Linked DNA regions of Homo sapiens: region 1 is linked to region 2. The links come from fine-mapping of genetic effects on gene expression. A gene starts in region 2. The other region holds a variant in brackets. All regions are shown on one strand. Distances are from middle to middle.

Region 1 (13,243 bases), 37 kb after region 2:
GACAGGTTATCTCTAATTGTATGGCTCTTTACCCTTAGTTTTAAAACAGAAAACAAAAGTAGTTTAAGTCATGCAATTTTAAAGGTACAGTTAATATATTGATATAATACATACTTTTGTAAATGTGTAAGAAAAATATGGAAAAGCTACATTCCAAACTCAATGGTGGTTACCTCTGGGCAATGGTGTCTGGAAAAGGTTTGGAAATTAAATCTTTCACTTTCCATTTCTTTACTATTAGCATTTTTCATAACCAGTACATATTATTTATTAATTTTTCCTTTCATTTTATGACTATTTACTGAGTACCTACTCTCTGCTAAGTTCTAAGTCAGGCCTAGAGAGTCCAATCTAGGTGGACATATTTCCAAACTGAAAGAAGCTTCTTATTTAAAGTAAGGCATGAGTGTATTAATAGTGAAAGATAAAATGAAAATATATAATTCATCTTATATGTTTCTATAAGATCAATTAATACATTTTATTAGGTAAAACCTACATAATCCATAAAACCACTGTTCATTTTGCTTCATTCAACCATAGGTGCTGAAATTTTCTGCATCAGAAATCATTCTGGAATCCTTTTTACCTGGCACTGACTAAAGAGATATGGGTGTTCCTTCCCAGAAGTCTGTTCAGGAGTGAGCCACTGGAGAGCAGAAGATTTTGGAGAGGTCTCAAAAGAAATTTCTATAACAATTTCTTGATTTCTGTATGAAACACATAAATATATTAGTAGAGTATGATTCCATCTAGTGAAAATTTAAACTCATAATACATACACTGAATAATATAAATAACATAGTATGCATTCTCATCACTGATTGGCAGTAAGCTCTAGGTATGCCACATCCTCAGTGGGTAAGTCTCCTCTCAGTTTTCCTACCTAATTGCCAGCCTGTGGGTCCTTTTACCTCTCCCATGCTAACTGCTAGCGAAGGCTTAATGGCAACTAACAGTGGTTGACTACCCCGTTGTGTGTCACGTACTTTGCATCTGTGATATCATTTAATATTTTATTAGAGTGAAAAAGTAAAAGAAATCATTTTTGGGGCTTCAACTACCACAGCAGCAGGTGCCACAGCATGACACAGAGCAGTGCTAGTCTGCAAACTGTTACCGGCCCAGGACAAGACAAGACCAGAAGTTGAGAGTCAGCATTGCAAAACTTTTAGAGTCATTTTTGTCTGTTGAATCTAATAATAAAAAATGTGTGCTTGTATTTCATCTCTTCTTCCTCATATTTCATTTTTATTGCATTGTACAAAAGTATCAGTCTATGACAGATTGAAGAGGATAGAAATTGGTCCTTTACCCCAGAGAGTTTGAGAAGCACTGATAATAAGGAAACAGCAGAGGTTTAGAGACCAGCAGCCCTGCTGGTGTTCGAATCCTGACTCTATCACTTACTGGTACTGTAAACTTGGGGAAATTATTTGACCTCCCTATGCCACAGTTTCCTTGTAGAATGGGGTGAATACCATCTACCTCACAAGCTAGACTTAAGTGTTTCCCTTCTCTTAAAGGGAAAGAGAAGGCATGAAAACACTGGCCTCTGAACAACTGGGGTAGATCACCCTTGTTCTAGGCCAATAGTTTTCACCCTCTTTCCCCTCAAGAGGTGGCATATACTCCCAGTGTGACAATTCTGGTTGCCACTTTCTTGAATAAGTTATTTCTCTAAGGTTCCCTTTCCTCATCTTTAAGTGTAGATTATACCAGCAGGGTTACTGTAAGGATTAGATACAAGAATGCATTTAAAGCACTTATCCCAAGATTGCTGCACTGTAACAGTTCTATCTTTGGCATTATCATTGTCCCATTAATAAATGCAGCTGGCCTCTGGGGCAAGGGCAAGGAGGGTGCAACTTGTAAAGCTGCCCAGGTTATCTTGAAATGCCTTCTTATGATGGCATGCCCCCACCATCACTCTAGATATTAGTAAAAGGATGAATCGTTTAGAAACTAACAGTTCCCAAAGTCCTTGTTGTATTATATACAAACAACATTTTTAGTATCTTAAGTATATATAATTTTAACTGCTGTATCAACTTTAATCTGAACAGAAGATCAGGATAAGTAGTGTACCAATCATTACATATTTACAAACTAAAATTTAAAAAGAAAAAATATTTAAATTAGTTAAGAATATGTTTCCCCATTATTTAGCTGTAAAAGAGAAAGATCATAACATTCATACTTGCTCAAAGCGATAGGAAGAGAGATTTCCATTGGCGATCCCTTGTAACTTTGTCTTTCTCCAAGAGCATATTTGACTTCTTGTCCATTGATCACTACTTTTTCTATTGTAAGGTCCTTTGTATCCAAAACCTAAAATTAATATTTTTAAATAGTAAGAAAATAGTTTCATTTACCAGAAAAAACTCATATTAGATATAGGCTACAACAACTAGTTGCTTATGGAGAGTAAAATACAGAGTGAAATTAGAAGAATTGAAGAGTCAAAAGCTAGTCTAGGTCTCATTTTTTGGGACTCTAAGCATCTTGAAAATTTTTGGGTTCTAAGATTTGCATATATATTGTTAAATAACCCTAGGACAGTCACACAAATTTTGGGCTTTAAGTAAAAGTCAAATCTAAATCAAAATATGTTTGCTTCTGACTCCTAAAATTTTCTCTATTATGAAAAACTTTATCTATAACTTAAGTTTCTTTCACTCTGGCTCCTCAATACATTACACAATATATTTCCTCCTAGAACTCATGTACTTTCAAACTTCATGTTCGTTAAGCAAATCAGCAAACTGTATATCACTGTGGTTGTATATCTAGAAAAAGCCCAACCTGGTATGGTAACTCAGACCAAATGATTCTGCAGAGGATTGGGAGGCCATATCTACTTGCCATGGCCAATTAAGGACAACTGCTTTGGGCATGAAGGAGTGACATCAAGTGTCAGAGTATTTTCTATCCCCAAAATCCTGAGCCCTACAAATCATACTCTTTAATTATCTCTCAACTAATCTCTTGTCCTAGAATCTTGAACCTTCCTATGCCACAAGACTGTTTCCTAACAACATAAACAAAATTCTACTTGATGGATCTACCCACTAAATATTCTAGTTTTCCTCCTTCCTTCCTTAAACTCCAAGGGAGTTTTTGACTGCTATGACTACTACTTCTACTTCTTCATTAATCATCCTCCCTTTCCCCTTCTTCCATCTGGCTTCTTGCTATTGAAAGGGCAGCCCCCACCCCGATCAACAAAGTCTTTTCTGTCCAATAACCTTGACCTCTGTCTACTCACAGCCCTTATGGACTATGTCATCTGGTTAAAACCCCTTCCTTCACTTCTTTGCCTGTACGCATACATCATAAATGGTTCTCTATTTGTCTAATGTTTTTTTCCTTTCCCCTCCTTTATTCCAATTCAAAAATATGGATATGTCCCAATGTTCCAGCCCCGGTCCTTTGATTTTCTTGCCATATCCTTCACTCCCTAGCTCTTACTCATGCCCACATCTTCAATTAGTATCTCTGTGAAGATGCCTGCCATTCTAGTTCTACAGTTGTATTCCCTCCCCAGGACCTCAGTCGAATCGCCTGCTCAACATTTCCATGGGACATAGCACCACACATTGAATAGGCTTCTAAAAATTCCAAAAATGATTTTTATACTCCCTGAATCAGATTTCTCCCCAGATTTCTTGATTCTGTTAAAAGAACTCTTCCAGTTACCTAAGGTTTGATCCCATTTCCCAACCCCACACAGCCACTTAAAAGTTGTTCTTTCACAATGTCTTCATACTTTTCCTTTCTTTCCACTACTAACCCAGGTCAGGCCCTGGACTGGCAGAACTGCTTTCTACCAGATCTCCCTACCTCTGGCATTATTTTTTTCCTTTTCTGAAATCTGACCTGGCTACATGTGAGGCCAAGAACCAGCCATTTCCCAGCTGCCCCTGGGTACTTTCTTTTGGGGGTACCTCATTTGTTATCCTTACTCTAAATTAGTAGAAGATACGGTTTATATCTTATTTAAAATAATAGGGTTACTCCTTCATATTCTAGTACCTCTCTAGTCTCTTCATAGTCTAGTACCTAGTTCTGAATAGCTATTCAGAATAGCTAACTTGTTTTAAAAACTTGATTTGAGTATCTTGTGTTTATAACACATGCTTATATAGATGAATTAACTGGGTCATTTCCCAGTGGAACATATTCTGTTTTCTATATTGGCTAAACTTTCCAAATCTGTTCAGAATCAGAAGTGTCATAGTGACAACTATTTTTTGTGAAACGTTTTGATATCCCCTGTGTCTGTTATAGCTCTTGGCCCTACCCTTTCCTATAATACTTACTGTACTGCATTATAATGATTTCTTTTTCCATTAGACTAAGGGTTCTAAAACAGAGAATGTTACTTAGGTCTGTATTCCCAGGGTTTAGCACTCTGCCTCAAAAACACTAGGTGTCAATTAATGCATGAAGCAGGTCCTAGACCAAGAGAAAACAAAAAATGCAATGTTTAAGCTGTATTATCTCAAGTCCTAAGTCTCAACTATCATTTGCAAACTACTTTTTAAAATTCCCCTTCAAATTTCAGCGATGTTATTTTTAAAAAATAGTCAAAAACTGTAATAAGAAAGAAAAATAAAGAAAACTGGATTGTTGACAAGTTGGATTTAGTACTTTTTAAGAAACGTGTTAAGCATCAACAGCTCTACTAATTATAGGATATAATTTATATGTTTCACAGTATCCTCTTTGAACAATACCCTCCATCCCCCTAAAAAGCAGTTGTACTTCTCAGTAGCTGGTCAGTTGACATGGAATAGGTATCTGATTCCTTTTTTGCACAGGCTGGTAGGAAGCTCCATGTCAACCCTGTGGCCCACTTCTTTTAAAGTATAGAGGGCTTTATGCCATGGGTTTTGTTTCTCCTATCCCTATTCTCTCTTCCTGCAAATTATTTAATTATTTTTAATCTTATACTATATATGTTGCTTCAAGCAGTCTCAGTCCTTTCTAGAACAAAGCAGAGTTTTTTTAAAAAAAGCTTTATGCCTCATTATGATGTCTAAATTTACATTTTCTACTTGCTATGTGCAGGGATATGATGAAAAAAAATAGGTTTATGTGTGAAACACAAAGCTAAAACTAAAAAACCACCTTGATTTGATTCCCAGTTGAGACATTTACTTAGTGAAAACAAGATGGTTTGCAGTCAGAATTACCTATTGTTAACTGCTGGCTTCTGCCTTGGCCATGGCACTAAAACCTCTTGAGCCACTAACCAAAAGAACACCTAAACATTTCTGAAGGTTTCAGTGAAAAGAAACAAATGTATGAAAGTTATCATAAATTTGGAGGATCAAACTTCAGTGTAAATAACCCAAAACTTGAAAAGAATTTTAGAAAGCTTAGAATTTGTCCGATTAAGTCTCCTTCAGCATTCCTCAACATCACAAACTCTAAGAACGGAGAGGAAAAGAAGACATGACGTCTCTCCTGATTCCGCACTGGCACTGGGTCTTCCCATCTCACCTCTGAAATACAGCTGGCACTATTATCAATGTAGCCCATGTTAAGCTTAGGCACTGTTTTCTAATTGAAATCATCCATTAATCAAACTTTTGAATGTCCTCTACATGCCAGACATAGACTATACTAGGAAGCTGAGATACAAAGAGTTATGAAACACAGTCTCTACATTCAAGAGTCCACAATCTAGTGGAGGAAAGAAACAAGTTAACTTTAAATAAATACTAATTAACTAATTAATAAGGATAAGCTCCTGGTCTAAGGCTTTTGTCATAAATAAGCAAACAATTATAAACATGTTATTTTGTACCATAAATTGCCTTCCTTGTATAACATGTAACATTATTATAATTCCAGGCTCTAATTTGCTAAACAGACATGCCAACCAGAAATCACTATTTTAAAATCTTACTTTTCTCTAGATTTGGGGAATGTAAAAACAATGAGCAGATTTTTAGATTGGGACATTCTTTTCAAAATTTAAACATCCTGACTCTTGCTTACTTATAGAACAGAGATAAAGTTTTTATTCTACAAAAGTGATGAGAACACATGGATACACAGTGGGGAACACACA[C/T]TGGGGCTTACTGGAGGGTGGAGGGTAGGAGAAGGGAAAGGATCAGGAAAAGTAACTAATGGGTACTAGGCTTAATACCTGGGTGACAAAATAATCTGTACAACAAACCCTCATGACACAAGTTTACCTATGTAACAAACCTGCACATTTGAAGTACACCTGAACTTCAAATAATAAATTTTTTAAGTTTTTATTTTACAAAACAAAGGTAAGTGTGAGGTCACATTAAGCAGCAAAAAGCTATAAAAATTTTCATTCTTTTACTTTTATCAGCATAGTTTATAATTTAATTTTTTTAAATAAAGGTGAAGAACAAGAACTTTCCAGTTAACTAAGAGCTTTGAGTGGGTTTGGGGCTTAGTCAAGGTTTTATTATATCTTAAACCAATTGGAATATTTCTTCTGAAATATATGTTGCAGCTAAAGATTCAAGGAAGAATTTGCTGTTCATATATTAGAAAAACCTCTTTAAATTTCTTCCACTAGCGACCTCGGTTTTGGTTTGCAATTATTCACATCTGAACACAAGTGTCCTGAATTGCTTAATTTTTAAATCTCTAGTACTTTTGAATGTAGGACGTATAAACTCATGTTCAAATATGGCAGTCTCACAGTGTGGTTTTTCTTTTTTTATTATTATACTTTAAGTTCTGGGGTACATGTGCAGAACGTGCAGGTTTGTTACATAAGTATACACATGCCATGGTGGTTTGCTGCACCCATCAACCCGTCAGCTACATTAGGTATTTCTCCTAATGCTATCCCTCCCCTAGGCCCCTACCCCCAACAGGCCCTGGTGTGTGATGTTCCCCTCCCTGTGTCCATGTGTTCTCATTGTTCAACTCTCACTTATGAGTGAGAACATGCGGTGTTTAGTTTTGAAACTGCATTGAAATAGGACTTCAGCCCTGCCCAGGCAAAGTTGCTACTGCAATTAAAGATAGCATGGTACTTCAAGAAGACCAAAGTGCGATCTGCAAGGAAATAGATGCCTTCCTGCTTATAATATCTTAATTTTCTTTCTTATGGTACTTTTGTTGATTACCTATCAGTACATAGAGGAATCGACCTATTTTTCAAATCAATCAGTTTAGCAAAATGTTGAGGGATGAAGAGTAAGAAAGTAAGTACTTATTAGTTCATATTAATGAAATCAAAATTCAGATCCTTCCTACACAAGTAGGAAAAAGAGGCCTGAAAGCCACCAATTCTTATCTGCCCGATCTGATCTGATTGCTTATTGATGTGCTTTAGTAGATTTCACCATGCTACACTGTGTAAAATACACATGTAGCATCCTGCCCTGGTGAAGAAGCCGAATTTGGCTGTCTTTTCATGACCCTCTTATTTTTAAAATGATCTTCTATGAAATTCTTCAGGTGAAAGGTACCTTCAGATGAAAGGTATAAACCAAATACTATTGGGCAATTTGAGCAAGAACATTAAATATAGGTTATGATACAGATAAAATCATTGAATAATATTCCATGAATCTACAACCTTTCTTCATTCCAATGGTTATAGAGTTTGTAGAAGTATGTGTTTTCTAAGTGAAATAACTACTTGGCTCCTTGGAACCAACTATTAAAAAAGCGTATTGAATCATCCTTAGAAAATTTGAACGTCCCATCCGTTCTTAAATTATTAGAAGAAAGTTGATAAGATTAAAAAGTAGAAAGGACCCTGAAGAGAGAGAGCTGCGCCTAGAGTTAGCAAGCAGGGACTGTTAGTTTCAAAGTAGGGCGGAAAGAAGAGGCCTGCCCGGCCGGGGCTGGAAATCCTAAGAGGCTTGAGAACGACTAGCAGGGAGATCCAGGGAACTAGGAGGGAGACGGATGGGTGGTGCCCTGCAGACCTGTGGATTGAAATAAGTGTTCCCGGGAGGCAACCGTGGGATCAGGGATCGACAGGACATGGGATCTGAGACTTGGGTGAGATTGTTGACTGAGGAAGGTGCCCAGGGGGCTGGGAAAAGTCTGGGGCCTGAAGAAGGGGGTTCTGGGCCGCAGGCCGAAGCAATGGGGAGGCCATGGAGTAATTAGAGCCAGGAACTAAAATTATGGGGGCTACTGCAAAGATGACACCTAAGGGCTGGGTGAGTTGAGAGGAGTGGACGAGGCGCTGGATGTGCCCAGGGACCTCGGAGAGAGGATCCAGGCGAGGGGCGGAGGAGACATACGTATAAGTGGGGGCTGAGGGAAGGGATGCAGAGGCGTAAGCGGGGTTGAGAAGGGGTGCTGTGAGAGATCTGGGGGCTGAAGTGCACAACATGAGTTGGATGGAGGCTACAGAAGAGCAGACGGGGACGTGGGGCTAGGCAGGGGCCGCGGCGGGGTGAGCCGGAGATCCGGGAGCCCGCAAGGACTAGGGTCGAGGGGCAGGGAGCCCGGGAGAGGCGGGCACTGGGCAGGCGCCCCACTGTACCAGGCTGCGCAGATTGTCCTCCTGAGACTGGACCGTGAGAGCAGCAGTCCCGGTCAGCGTCCGGCGAGTAAAGTCGACGCTGCAGCGCAGGTGCAGGTGCTTGGTCCGGCAGACGGAAGCCGGAGAGGCCAACGAACAGGTATCCACTATCTCGGGCATGGCTCTGGGGGATCACACAGCACAGCGACCTACAGCCCAACGCTCAGCTACCAGACTCGTCGATAGAGAACCTGAGGAGGAGGGAGAGAGGTAAAGAAGAGGAGGAGGGATTCGCGGTGCACGCCGGGAAAGGAAGTTTCTTAAAGTCAGACGAGCGTTGGGGGATGGGTGAAGGAACTACAAGTTCCATGGTGCCGCGCGGCAAGCGGGCGCTTGGCTACCTGGGAGCGTGTGTGTTAGGGATGTTGAGGGGGACCAAGCGTGCTCCTGGAGCTGAAGAAGAGGAGGGGAGTAGGGGCAGTTAGAAGGGTGGCCGAAGGGAAATGATGAGAATGGAGGGGGAGATAAAACTGAACACTACCATTTTGGCTCTGTTCAACTTTCGTGGAAGCTGTGGTGGCAAACGTAAGAAAATCAGGTTCATTGGTGTTTGCATATAGCGAGGGCGGGGCGGAGCAAAAACGTAGAAAAGGCCTATCAGAAGGCTTTCTTTCGTGCGGTTCCTCGTTAGTATAGTGGTGAGTATCCCCGCCTGTCACGCGGGAGACCGGGGTTCGATTCCCCGACGGGGAGGCACAGTAATTGTTTTTTGTTTTTAGCTGTAAGTAATTCAAGGTTTAAACAGTTGTTTTGTCAGTTTCAGTGTTTATTATGTATATCCCCAGAACCTGCATCTCTCAAACGGAGAAAGCCAACATTCCCATCTTAGAAACTAATGAATTTCTATAAAAGTTATGCACTGGTCGCAATGGGAGTACAGAGCTGGGACATCTAGCTCAGCTCTGGGGCCTTTGTGGCAGGTGAAGGAGGATTGAAGGATGCCTTGCCTTTAGGGTGGGGCCTCAAAATTAAAACTGGAAAAATTGGAAGAGGCTAGGTTTCGAAGGACCTTAAATAGGTGGCCTTTTAATCCTGGGTGCATTAATGGGGGACCCACTGAAGAGTTTTCAGCAGGCGACTGATAAAGCATGGTCAGACTCATGTTATAAAATGCGGTATCAAAACCATTAGCAGGAGATTTAGGAAACTATTAAAATGGCTCAATCAGAAGATGCTGGGGGCCTGACATAGGTAAGTAGTAAGTTAGGATAGAGAGGAAGGAATGAATAGAAGGAATACTTATATAAGTGGATTCACAGATTGAGAGGAGACGAAGGTGGCCCAGGCTTTCGGCTTCAGTGGCTGGCTAGTCATTAACCAGAGGTAGTAGTCTATATGAAGAGGACAGTATGTTAGGCTGTACTTGCATTGCTATAAATACCTGAGACTGGGAAGAAAAGGGGTTTAATTGGTTTACAGTTACGCAGGCTGTACAGGAAGCATAGCTCCAGTATGCTTCCAGGTAGGCCTCAGGAAGCTTACAATCATGGCAGAAGGTGAAGAAGGGGCAGGCCTCTACATGGCCCGAGCAAGAGCAAGAGATTGCGGGGCCGGTGCCACACACTTAAACAATCAGATCCCACAAGACACTGTGGCGAGGACAGCACCAGGCCATGAGGGCTCTGCCCCCGTGACCCAAACACCTCCCACCAGGCCCTACCTCCAACACTGGAGATTATAATTCAACATGAGATTTGGTAGGGACATATATTCAAACTAAATCAGACAGATTTAAGGGGAAGATGCTAAATTCAATTTTGGACATATGAAATTTGAGAACCTATGGGAGTGGAAGTGGAGATGTCCATGAGTCACTTGGATATTTAAGTCCACAGCTCTGGGGAAGTGCCAGGTAGACATGACCACGTCACATAACGTGGTGGATGAAATTATGACAGTGGGTAAGCTCAACCCAAGAAGAGTGTGTAAAGAGAAGGGTAATGAAAACAGGTTGGAAGCTGAGAGAACACCAGAATTTATTGTTTTAAAAAGGGCTAGAGGAAGAGAAACCCATGAAATAAACCAGAAAGAGCCAACCAACAATGCCAGATGCAGTCCCGAGGACCACCGAAGTAAGAAGTGAAAATTCTCTAGATTTGGCAGTGGGGTGAGAATGGGGAAGGTGGTGATTTTGTTGACTGTCGTGATTTGGTTGAAGATGGAAGCCAGAGAGTAGTGGATTGAGCAATGAAGAGAAGAGGGAGGTGAAGCATAAACCACTGTCAAGTTGCTTGGCCAATGTGAGAAGGGAAGATAAAGGGGAAGCTAGAGAGGAATGCAGCATTGAGAAAGCTTTTTTTTTTTTTTTTTTTGAGACGGAGTCTCGCTCTGTCGCCTAGGCTGGAGTGCAGTGGCGCAATCTCGGCTCACACAAGCTCCGCCTCCCGGGTTCACACCGTTCTCCTGCCTGAGCCTCCAAGGACTACAGGCGCCCGTCACCAAGACCGACTAATTTTTTGTGTGTGTATTTTTAGCAGAGACGGGGTTTCACCGTGTTAGCCAGGATGGTCTGCATCTCCTGACCTCGTGATCCACCCACCTCGGCCTCCCAAAGTGCTGGGATTACAGGCGTGAGCCACCGCGCCCGGCCGAGAAAGAATTTTTTTAATGTTTGCTTTTTAAGGCAAGAGAAAACTTTAACATGTTTAGATATACAGGTGAAAGGGCTTCTGGAGAAGAGGAAAGTTTCTGCAGAAGGATCGACTCAGAGGCAAAAAGGTAGAGAAGAAGAAAGTAAAGATTTCAGAGGTGTGAGGGATAGTTGATGGGTTTAGCATGCTGGTATGGTTCAATTCTCTATCAAAAGTGACGAAATTTAGCTCCAGCAACAACAACAAAAAACTGCTATATTTCTGGATATCCTTGTGTTGGCCCCTGCAAGCCAAAGGAAAACAAAATAAAACCAAAAAATCCCAAACTATGAAATCTAATACCTTACACATGCATAGGTCCTAATTCATAGGGTGTAAGAATTTGTCATCAACATTTGCATTTTCGGATTTTTTTGGCAAATGTCCTGTTGCCCAGGCTGGATACAGTGGCATGATCATGGGTAACTGCACATTCAACCTCCTGGACTCAAGCGATTCTCGTGCCTCAGCCTCCAAGTAGCTGGGACTACAGGCGCCCGCCACCACGCCTGGCTAATTTTTATATTTTTTTAGAGATGGGGTTTTGTCATGTTGCCCAAGCTGGTCTCAAACTTCTGAGCTCAAGGGATCCACCTGCCTTGGCCTTCCAAAGTGCTGGGATTACAGGTACGAGCCACCACACAGAGCCGCAAACATTTTTTGAGGTCACCAAATCTAGGGTGACAAATACAATAGATAACATAGAATTCATTTAGTCAAATAATACACAGTCAAATCATCTTATTTATCTAGTATGGAGAAAGGATAGTTTGTTTTAATAAGAACGTCATTATCATCATCTTCTATTATTGATTACCAGGAACCCACAGAGTTTATGCCACTTGTGTTTAAATAAAAATATCCACACACAACCACAAATAAATTCCTCCATTAATATATTCATCAAAAAATAAATTACAGTAGGAATTGTTTTCTGAGATACCACTCACCCCAAATATAGAATGTACAAAATTTGCAATTTACAAGCAATTGGAGTATTATTGATATCCAATGGGGAATTGAGAATGCTTCAAAAAATGAGGCTTTCCACTGCATCTATAAAAGAAGGGTAAGGCTGGGCACAGTGGCCCACACCGGTAATCCCAGCACTTTGGGAAGCTGAGGCAAGCAGATTGCTTGAGCCCAGGAGTTTGAGTTCAGCCTGGGCAATGTGGTGAATCCCTGTCTCTACAAATAATAGTAATAATAATAATAAAAGAAGGGTAATATCAGGGTTTAGTTACCAAAGGAGACTTAAAGATGAAAAGATGATCTATATAAAATATTATGAAAAGAAATAATACCTATATTTATAGAGCCATATGAACAGGAAGAATTCCAGCCCTGCTATTCACCTGGAAAAGTTACTTAATCCCTCAATCCCCTCAGGATAATTGAGGCACCTGTGGCCCGTGCAGTTGTTGAAAAGATGAAATGAGATAAAGTATGGGAACTGCTTGGCACTGTGATTGAAACAGATTGGGCATTTGTTACATGTTAGCTAATATGATTATTGCTGTTGGCTTTTGTCTATTTTAACCACTGTAATGTTATTTTTCCTTGTTGTGTTAGCAAGAGCTTTTAGGACAACCTGGGAAGTGAGAAGCAACCACGGTTTGTACAGCAAAACAAGTCACACCAAATTAGGCCTCTAAAAAGGAATGGCAACATTAGCAAAGATATGTTTTGAAATGCATTTACGGGAAATTTCAATTGTTGCACAAATGCTTCCCTTAAAAGGGCAAAAAGACTTTACATTGTTTTCTCCCCTTCCTTTACATATACCTTTCCTTTCTTGAAATAGTCGATGTAATTTGCAGATATTTATTAGATGCATTCTACTACACTGTGCTACCTAGAAAATAATTGGGGAAGGTTCTGTCTTACCTCTTGGATAATTTATACTCTAGTACCCAGCTGTACTAATGACCTAAGACAACATGGTGTTAAGAGGAGACTAAGGCCCTAGAAAAACTATACATGAAATTCTAGAGGGACAAGTTCTATCCCTTTGGAGAAAGTCAAGAATAACGTCATGATTAACATAGCATTTGAGATGGGATTTGAA
Region 2 (8,000 bases):
GGCAGGCTTGAATGTAAGGGCAGACTTAAGAGTCCTGTTCTAGTCTTGAAGATGACAAATGCTAGGGAAAGGGTCTTGCAGAATAAGTTAAAGTTCATAGGAGTAAGCATCTCTGATCGACTTTCTCCTCTTCCCCCATCTAACTATCCTACTTTTTGCCAACGGCATTTCCCACTCATTTCAATTATTTCATGTCTTCTCAGGTGATTCCTCAGCATCTGGCCAATCAATTCTACCCTGTGGTACATGTCCAGCCTCCACAGAGGTTCCGTCTAGGGAGCCATTGCATTACCATTAAACATTTCTATGACTTGTTTGAGGGTCTCCAGGGAAATGCCACTGTATCCTTTGGCTAAGACATTGATCCTTAAAGCCAAGAGCATCCGACACCTCTCAGGACTTAGTGGTTTCCCAACACCTGCAAAACAGAATTGATGTTTTCTCCAAGAAAAGCAAACTCCTTTTTGTCTCCTGACAATTGCCCTCCCTCCCTCCAATCTTTCCCATATGTAGCCCAGCCTGCTATTACCTTCTCCTCTCGGCTCAGGTAGTTGGACTACTCTCCCTCCTGCCTGTCTGACTTGTCTGAGCCCCATCTTCCTGACAAAGGTTAAGACCCCAGTTTTGCCTTCTCAATTCCCCTTTTTGGGAAGCTTCAGTGAACCCCTGACCTCCCACTCACCTTTAGAATAGCATCCAGAGTCCTTAGCACAACTTCTTTACCATCTGATGGGTGCTGATTGGTGACAGTCTTTCCCATCTCACTATGCCCATCCTAACTCATTCTTTGAGTTCCAGGCTTTATTTCCTTCCCTGAATGCAACAGTGTCTCCATGGCATGGGACATGTGTTCTCATACCAACCCCATCCCTCCACCTGGCCCATTTCTTTTTCTGAGGCTCAGCTGATTCTTTCTGCATCCCTTCTCACCTCGGCACCTAGTTCTTGAAATGCTGTTTTGAGAAACTAGCTTTTTGTGACTATAACTGGATAACTCACACTGTGCTGTGCTTTATTCATCTAATCACACAAGATCCAGGAGGCACCCAACGTTTTGACTTACCTGAAGAATGTGAGCGTACTAAGTTGACCTGAAGCTCCCTGCAACAGAAAGGTAAAAACCCTCTTAGATACATTGCAGTGAGAAAATGTTCCCTCAGCTGGGAAAATGAAGGGAATCATGGTCAAATCCTTGGAGGGACAGAAGGAAGGCAATGGGAGAAACCAGCCAGCCTGGGTTTTCAATACCAACTCACATGCAAGGTAACCCAAGCCTCATCCTCTGATCTGTAAATTGGGGCAAATGTGAATTATTTCCCTTGTTGAAAAATATTTAAAAGATGAGGGTAGGTGGAACGTGAACATATGTGTGTTTTAAACTTACTGTAGCTTATTGATAGGAATTACAGTTCTGGCAAATTTCCCAAAACCTGTAGTAATACCGTAAACAACTAGAATAAAAAGAGACATTATGCAATTAAATGCAGGGATTTTTGTTTGTTTATAAAAATATTTATAACATAAAGATAAAAAGATACCTGTTTTCTCTTTTATGATGCTATCTATGACCTCCCTGGATTTCTGCACCCTCTTCTCAGCTGTTGGGGTGAGCTAGGAAAATGTTGATCAGAACTGAGCACGTTAAAGACTTCCACGGGCAACAAAAATGGCCAGAGGACATCTTTCCCCTCCCTCCCCATACCTTTATTTTGTAGCGTCCCTTTCCCAAGTTGACCAGATCCTCCGTGGTCAGACGGTCTCCATCTAACTCGATGTACTACACAAAAGAAGGGGATCTCAGTGAGTCTGAACAGCTTGATTATTCTAACCAGAGTAGGGACACCTCCAACAGAACCAAACTGACATTTCAGAGATCTGATCATTGCGTGAAACATGAATATGCTAAATAAAAATGCATCTTGCATAAGAGGAGGCTTATTGGTGCAAAAGCATAATGCCTTTCCAAGCCCCCTTTCCCCACTACAGAGCTGGATAAAGCCCTGTGGTTGGTTGGTTTGTTTGTTTTGAGGCAGAGTCTCCAGCCCAGGCTGGAGTGCAGTGGTACAAACATGGCTCACTGCAACCTCTGCCTCCTGGGTTCAAGCAATTCTCGTGCCTCAGGCTCCTGAGTAGCTGGTATTACAGGTGCACGCCACCATACCTGGCTAATTTTTGTACTTTTAGTAGAGATGGGGTTTCACCATGTTGGCCAGGCTGGTTTCAAACTGATGACCTCAAGTGAACTGCCCACCTCGGCCACCCAAAGTGCTGGGACTACAGACATGAGTCACTGCTCCCGGCCAGCCCTGTTCTAATTGACAGTGTTTTCTCAGAAGTTTTCCTGGCTTTCCTCCCTCTTAAATAAGGGGCCTTAATTTTCTGAAGAAAAAGAAAGTGGTTTGAAGCTTACCTTTTCAGGCTCCCGGTACTTGCTGTATCTGTATCCAGGTAAAGGAACATATAGGGTGGTGTGGAAAAACCCCCAGCCCCACCATCTGCAGGAGCCACCCCCAGAGCAGACCAAAGAGCCTGTGGGAAAGGATACAGATAAACTCCTTCTGGTTGAGATGGAATGAAGTCAGGAGACATGGCATCACCCTCTATAACTAAAACAATGCACGGGAGACTCGTTACAGATCACATTGTACAGCCATGTTCCCCCTGTTAAACCAAGGAACGGCCCATCATTGGCCCATGAATTCTATAGAAATGGCTGCTTTAAAACTGCTTCAGATGGTTTCATGTGGTCTTAGCATCTTTATGTAGGAGGAGAGCAAAAAGCAGAAAGGTAGGTGTCAGGGCAGAGACCAGGGGTTTAGATGAAAGTTCAAGACAGAATTCCACTTCCATCCCCATTCCCAGCTTTATTTTCTTCAAAATCTGAACTGATGCTATGCTGCCGGCCTCCAGTCTGGGGGTGGGGGTGGATTCTTTCGAAAGGCAAAATAACCTCAAAATGATTCAGTCACTGCAAAGGGATTCAGACCTGCAGCCTTGAGTACCAGTCTAGTCTTTGTTACTTACTAGCTGCTGGAGTCTGGGTAAGTTACCTCCTCTCTGATTTCTCCTCCATCAGAGGTGGAGGAGAATCCTACCCATCTCACAGGGTTGTGTGAGGACTTAAGATCCCCAGAGGCGTGGCATGTGCCTGCACAGGGCCAGCCTCGGCAAGCCTGACCTCTGCTCATCATTTTCCCTGAGGTGGGGGTTCAATGCTGCAAAGACTAAGCCAGGCCAAACCGCACCCGTTCGCGGCCCTCTCCTGCAGCCACTCACCCACTTCCACGAACTCGTTGTTCTCTAGGGCCACCTCGAGCCGGTCCTCGTTGTCCAGCAGGCCCAGGCCCTTGCACCGGCGCACAAGGAAGTGCGCGTCATCCACGGAGGTGAAGCCACCATTGTCGGGCTTATTCTTGATATAGCGCCTCACGGCCTCCCGGCCCAGCCAGCCCACAGTGAGCTGCGCGTCCTGGCAGGGCACTGCCAGCCATTCCCCACGTACGTGCACCGTGTATCTGGGCATGGCTCCGCTGCAGCCTGAGGTCCTCAGCTGGTCACAGGAGGGGAGAGCTTTATGCAGGAGTGGCTACCGGGGTGTGGTCAGCTGGAAGGATGAGAATAGACTTTCAAACCACTCCCCCTCCTTCACCTTTACTCATTCATGCATTGGACAAATATTTATTGAGGTACCTGCTGTCCCTTTGGTTTTTGTAGCCGAGCAGGGGCAGGAGCAGGGGATGCAGACGGGTGAGCCTCCTGTCCACTTTCCATCCAGACCTGCTGCCAGAAAGGCCTGGGGTCTCCCACCCTGGGAGGTGCTGTTCTTGTCCCTGATGGCACCTACCTGCTGCTGGCCCCCTTTCTTCAGGGTCCCCAATTTCTCTCTCTTCCCTCGTTTCTGTCTGTGTTCTCTGCCATTAAGGGCAGCTTATAAACACCATGTTCCTGTCTTTATCTGAGATTACTCAACTGTAAAACGTGTTCTGTGGGCCAACTGTGACACTGGGAGTGTGGCAATCGTCACTCATTTGTTTATTCCACAAACATGTATTGAGCAACTACTTCCTGTCACCAGTAAGGTTTTCTGAAGCTTTCTTTCCACCAGGGAAGACTGCAAAGGCCAGAGATCATTTTCACAACTAAAGGTCGTCATCTGGGCAAATGAACCACTCTGACTTGGAGATTAGGGGCTCAGACAGCCGTGGATGAGAGTCCAGCTCTACTACTTATTAGCCTTGATTAGGTGAGTATTACCCTGTATTTCCTTATCAGAAGGCCTAGGGGCTAACTGCCTCCTTCCAGTATGTGCAGGATTTACCTGTGATCAAATCCTGGCTCTGCCATTTGCTAAGTGTATGACTTGTGGGCAAGTGATTTGACTTCTCTGGGCCTCAGTTGCCTCATCTGTAAAATGAAGATAATGGTAATGATGATAGTATATATGTCAAAGGGCTATTGGGAGGATGAAGTCAGTTCATATATGTAAAGCCCTCAACACAACACCTGGCATAGTGGAAATATTATAGAAGTGTCTGTGATTACTAGTATCTGGACACCAATACTCCATGTAACTATAATGCTTTATAAATGTTCTGTATGAATCATAAAGCTATAAAGTTCCATAAATGCTCTTTCATCTTGGCACATGGATATCCCTCACCCAATTAAGCTTCTTCACCACAGATAACTGCTCCCTGCACCCGCCTTATTACCATTGGTATTAAGGAACTCTGGATAGCATGATTACGGCATCAAAGATATGCAGATGCTATTTTGACTAAGCAGCACTTTCATCGTAAGCCAATTTTTAGAGATTTGATTATTGCACTAGAAAAATCCTGAAAAGTCTGTTTCCACTAAATCAGACTTCTGTTGGGAAGAGAGACATGGTTGCTCAAGAAAAACACCTATACTCATACCCAGAGTCCCTCTCATCTGCTGACAGCTTCCCAGGAAGCGTACAAATAGCTACCCTTCCTTGAGCCTTATTGAAACTTGCTCTTCAGATACCCACACCATGACTGCACCCTGGAATTTGTCATGACCTGAATTTGACACACTTAAGAAATCACCCTGGAATCTGTCACGACCTGAATTTGACACACTTAAGAAATCTGAAATTCCAATATTCCACCTTCTGACCACAACCTTCCAGCTGCCCTTTTACTCTAGTCACTGCCAGCCTTGGACCTGACCTCCAGTCAGTCTCTTCATCCCTCCACTTCCCACCAGCATCCTCACTTACTATCCTAGGAAGCTGGTCCCTAGTCGCTCACTGGACCACTCTTTCTTAAGCACTCTGAGATTCCTTTGCATCCCTAAACTTATGTCTACACTTGGAATAACACCCATCCCCTTAGTCATCACAAAAAACAGCCATCTCTTGGAAGGATTGCTTAAGCCTAGGCAGTCAATGCTGCAATGAGTTATGATTATACCACTGTACTCCAGCCTGGGTGAGAGCAAGACCCTGTTTAAAATTAAAAGAAACTGTCATATCTGTTCACCCAGGCAGAAGACACTGATAGAGAAAGTCCTGTGATCACATAGTTTGATGGTATTGCCCTTTTATTCCATCCAGCCCACAGTGACTTTCCAAAACTTTGACCCCTCTGCCAGGACCTTCTCGACATCCACCTCTAATTCTCAGAAGGAGACCTTACTTCCTACATCTGTGAGAAAACTGAGGACTGCACATGTGAACCACCTTAACCTTCTGCCCCACCCCCCCCCATTCATTCCTTGACTCATTTAACAAATATTTTTTCAACACCTGTTATGTAACAAGCTCTATGCGAGGTGCTGGGGATGAAATAAATAACAAACACGCTCTACATTCATGAGGCTTACTGTCTGGTGATGGATAAAGCTGTATAAAGATGACTAATAAGAGGTCTAACTATCTTCATGCTGCAAAACAACCCAAACTACTGCATGCTCCAGTTGACTGTCACTGCCGAGACCAGCTTCTGAGTAATTTCAGCCCAGGCATCAGACTAGTGAGGGAAGGAGCTTCCAGGTGATACCACCTCCCAGCCATGTAAGTCACCCCCAGCAGTTTGAGGATTCTAAACTCAGGCCCTACGCATTGTGGAGCAGAGTCTTCCTTGTTATTCTTTCTCCAGAAACGCACTTTCCAACTTCCTTTGCCTGTCTAGATCTTTCTTACTCCTTAAGCCTGTTTAGGCCTTTTCTTCTCCAGGAAGCATTCCCTAAATTCTTCAGTTGGGTTAAGTGGCCCTTCTCTGGGATGCCTTAGCATAGCTCTTCTTTAGTATTATCTAGGAAATTACTTGTCTGTGTTCATCCATAATTATGTATATATCCGATCTGGCACAAAGACATTTAGCATATGCTTACTAGCTGAACTGAAGAAATGTGAACTGCACCGAGCTGGCCCCTAGGTAAACCAGCAAGCAGGATTAAGTTTGTCTTTAGCGCCCTCTACCTTCTTCACAGCACCCTTCCATGCCACCCTTCAAGCATCCCTTGTCACAATTCACTTTCAGTATCACTAAGTGATAACTAAAAACGACATTAACTTACAGCTTGTCTTGTAAGCTCATAGGGCAGAAGCCTTAAAGAGCAGTATTTGGGTAAATGGATTTGCTAAAGTCTAATCTTAGAACATGATCTTATGCCAGTGATTTGAGCTGAACTCCCTTCTCTGTATTCTTGGCAAGGAAGGCAAGGGAGAGCAGAGCCTGGAGAAAGAATCACACTGCAGCATAGATAAGTGACCAAGAGGACAGAACGAGGCGGGTGGATTGCTTGAGCCCAGGAGTTCGAGACCAGCCTGGGCAACATGGCCAAACTCTTTCTCTACAAAACAAAAATTAGCCAGACATGGTGGTGCATGCCTGTAGTCTCAGCTACTCCAGAGGCTGAGGTGGGAGGATGGCTTGAACCCAGAGGCTGATGCTGCAGTGAGCTATGGTCATGCCACTGCACTCCAGCCTGGGCGACAGAGTGAGACCCTGTCTCAAAACAAAACAAAACAAAAACTGCTAGGGAGAGTGAGAGCCAGGGAAAAGTCAGGATTCCGGGAATAGGCAGGAATATGTCTCTTCCATACCTGTCCCACCTTGGGTGTTCACTCCTATTGTAACTTTAGTCACTGCATTAGCACTTTGAGGGGTTATTTGGTCAGGACACCGCTCCCCACCCCCACCCCATGCCAACAATTATACTCTAAGACACCATTCCTCTTACACAATTTATTTGACCAGAGGTGGACCCAACCTGGGTTAGAGTCTCACCTCTGGGAATTTGGAATTGTGATAGCCTCCCCATGTGGTCAGAGCTATTTGTAACAGTAAAGCTGGAGAGTGGCCGGCCTGTACAACGTGGACTAGAGAGGCAGAGGTGAGGGACAGGAGCACTGACGGTGCTGCAGTCCTGGGCATCAGACCCCTTCTGTCCGTCCCAGGTTCTGATAATCTCCCCATACCTAGCATCCTTAAAATAATCTTCCTTTTCCCTTTTTGACTTCTGGTCACTTGGATTGCTGTTACTTGCAATCAAAGAATTCTAACACAGCTATGGTTCTAATTAATTCTAACTAATAGAGCTAATACACTAATAATTCTACCTAGTACAGCTATGTGTGCTGAGATGCCCTGGGGCACTACGTTGCATTGGCAGGGGTGCTTTGTTATGTTTGTCTTTTATTTGGTTCAAGTTATTTTGTTGTCTTTGAACAGACTGTGAGAGGGATGGGAAAGACTGGTGCTTGGGGTGGCCATCTGACCCCTGATGGACAGGAGACCAGGACAAGCCCACTGGATGAGCCGGAGGGGTCCAGGAGGAGGGAGTTGAGAGCTCCTGCTAGGGTTGACACATTCTGGTAAGGAGTTCATCTGCTGTCCACCAGGTAGGTGGTGTGCAAATACAACTAAGCATTCATGTTTAAGGTTTTTTTTTAATTTTTTATTTTTCGAGGCAGAGTCTCCATTGCCCAGGCTGGAGTGCAATGGCGCCATCTCGGCTCACTACAACCC

Direction of the effects. Alleles are on the strand shown, and positions count from the first base shown. SD is a standard deviation of normalised expression in the study named.
As copies of T replace C in region 1, the expression in monocytes of the gene that starts at base 3,957 in region 2 goes down (large effect, 0.89 SD a copy in Schmiedel 2018).

Evidence for each region. PIP is the estimated chance that this variant, and not a neighbour inherited with it, causes the effect.
Region 1: its variant is the best candidate, but not a certain one, in a credible set for the expression of HAL in monocytes (Schmiedel 2018, PIP 0.73).

The regions. Positions count from the first base shown.
Region 1 is chr12:96,026,855-96,040,097 of GRCh38, forward strand. LTA4H (leukotriene A4 hydrolase) reads right to left here and starts at 8,733. Exons shown (of 19, transcript NM_000895.3): 1 at 8,507-8,733; 2 at 2,201-2,331; 3 at 590-710. The coding sequence starts at 8,665. TRD-GTC2-8 (tRNA-Asp (anticodon GTC) 2-8) reads left to right here and starts at 9,167; the gene lies at 9,167-9,238. RefSeq lists enhancers at 6,028-6,197, 7,832-7,921, 8,512-8,931, 9,372-9,421, 9,442-9,491 and a silencer at 8,362-8,461. The variant C/T (reference allele first, on the strand shown) is at 6,083.
Region 2 is chr12:95,992,388-96,000,387 of GRCh38, forward strand. HAL (histidine ammonia-lyase) reads right to left here and starts at 3,957. Exons shown (of 21, transcript NM_002108.4): 1 at 3,691-3,957; 2 at 3,277-3,604; 3 at 2,546-2,606; 4 at 2,411-2,438; 5 at 1,703-1,777; 6 at 1,539-1,611; 7 at 1,385-1,451; 8 at 1,064-1,101; 9 at 293-418. The coding sequence starts at 3,523. It overlaps LOC102723340 (a long non-coding RNA gene), which reads left to right and starts at 4,095. Exons shown (of 4, transcript XR_945237.4): 1 at 4,095-4,243; 2 at 5,944-6,040; 3 at 7,704-7,873. RefSeq lists enhancers at 4,170-4,339, 5,564-5,858, 6,305-6,364.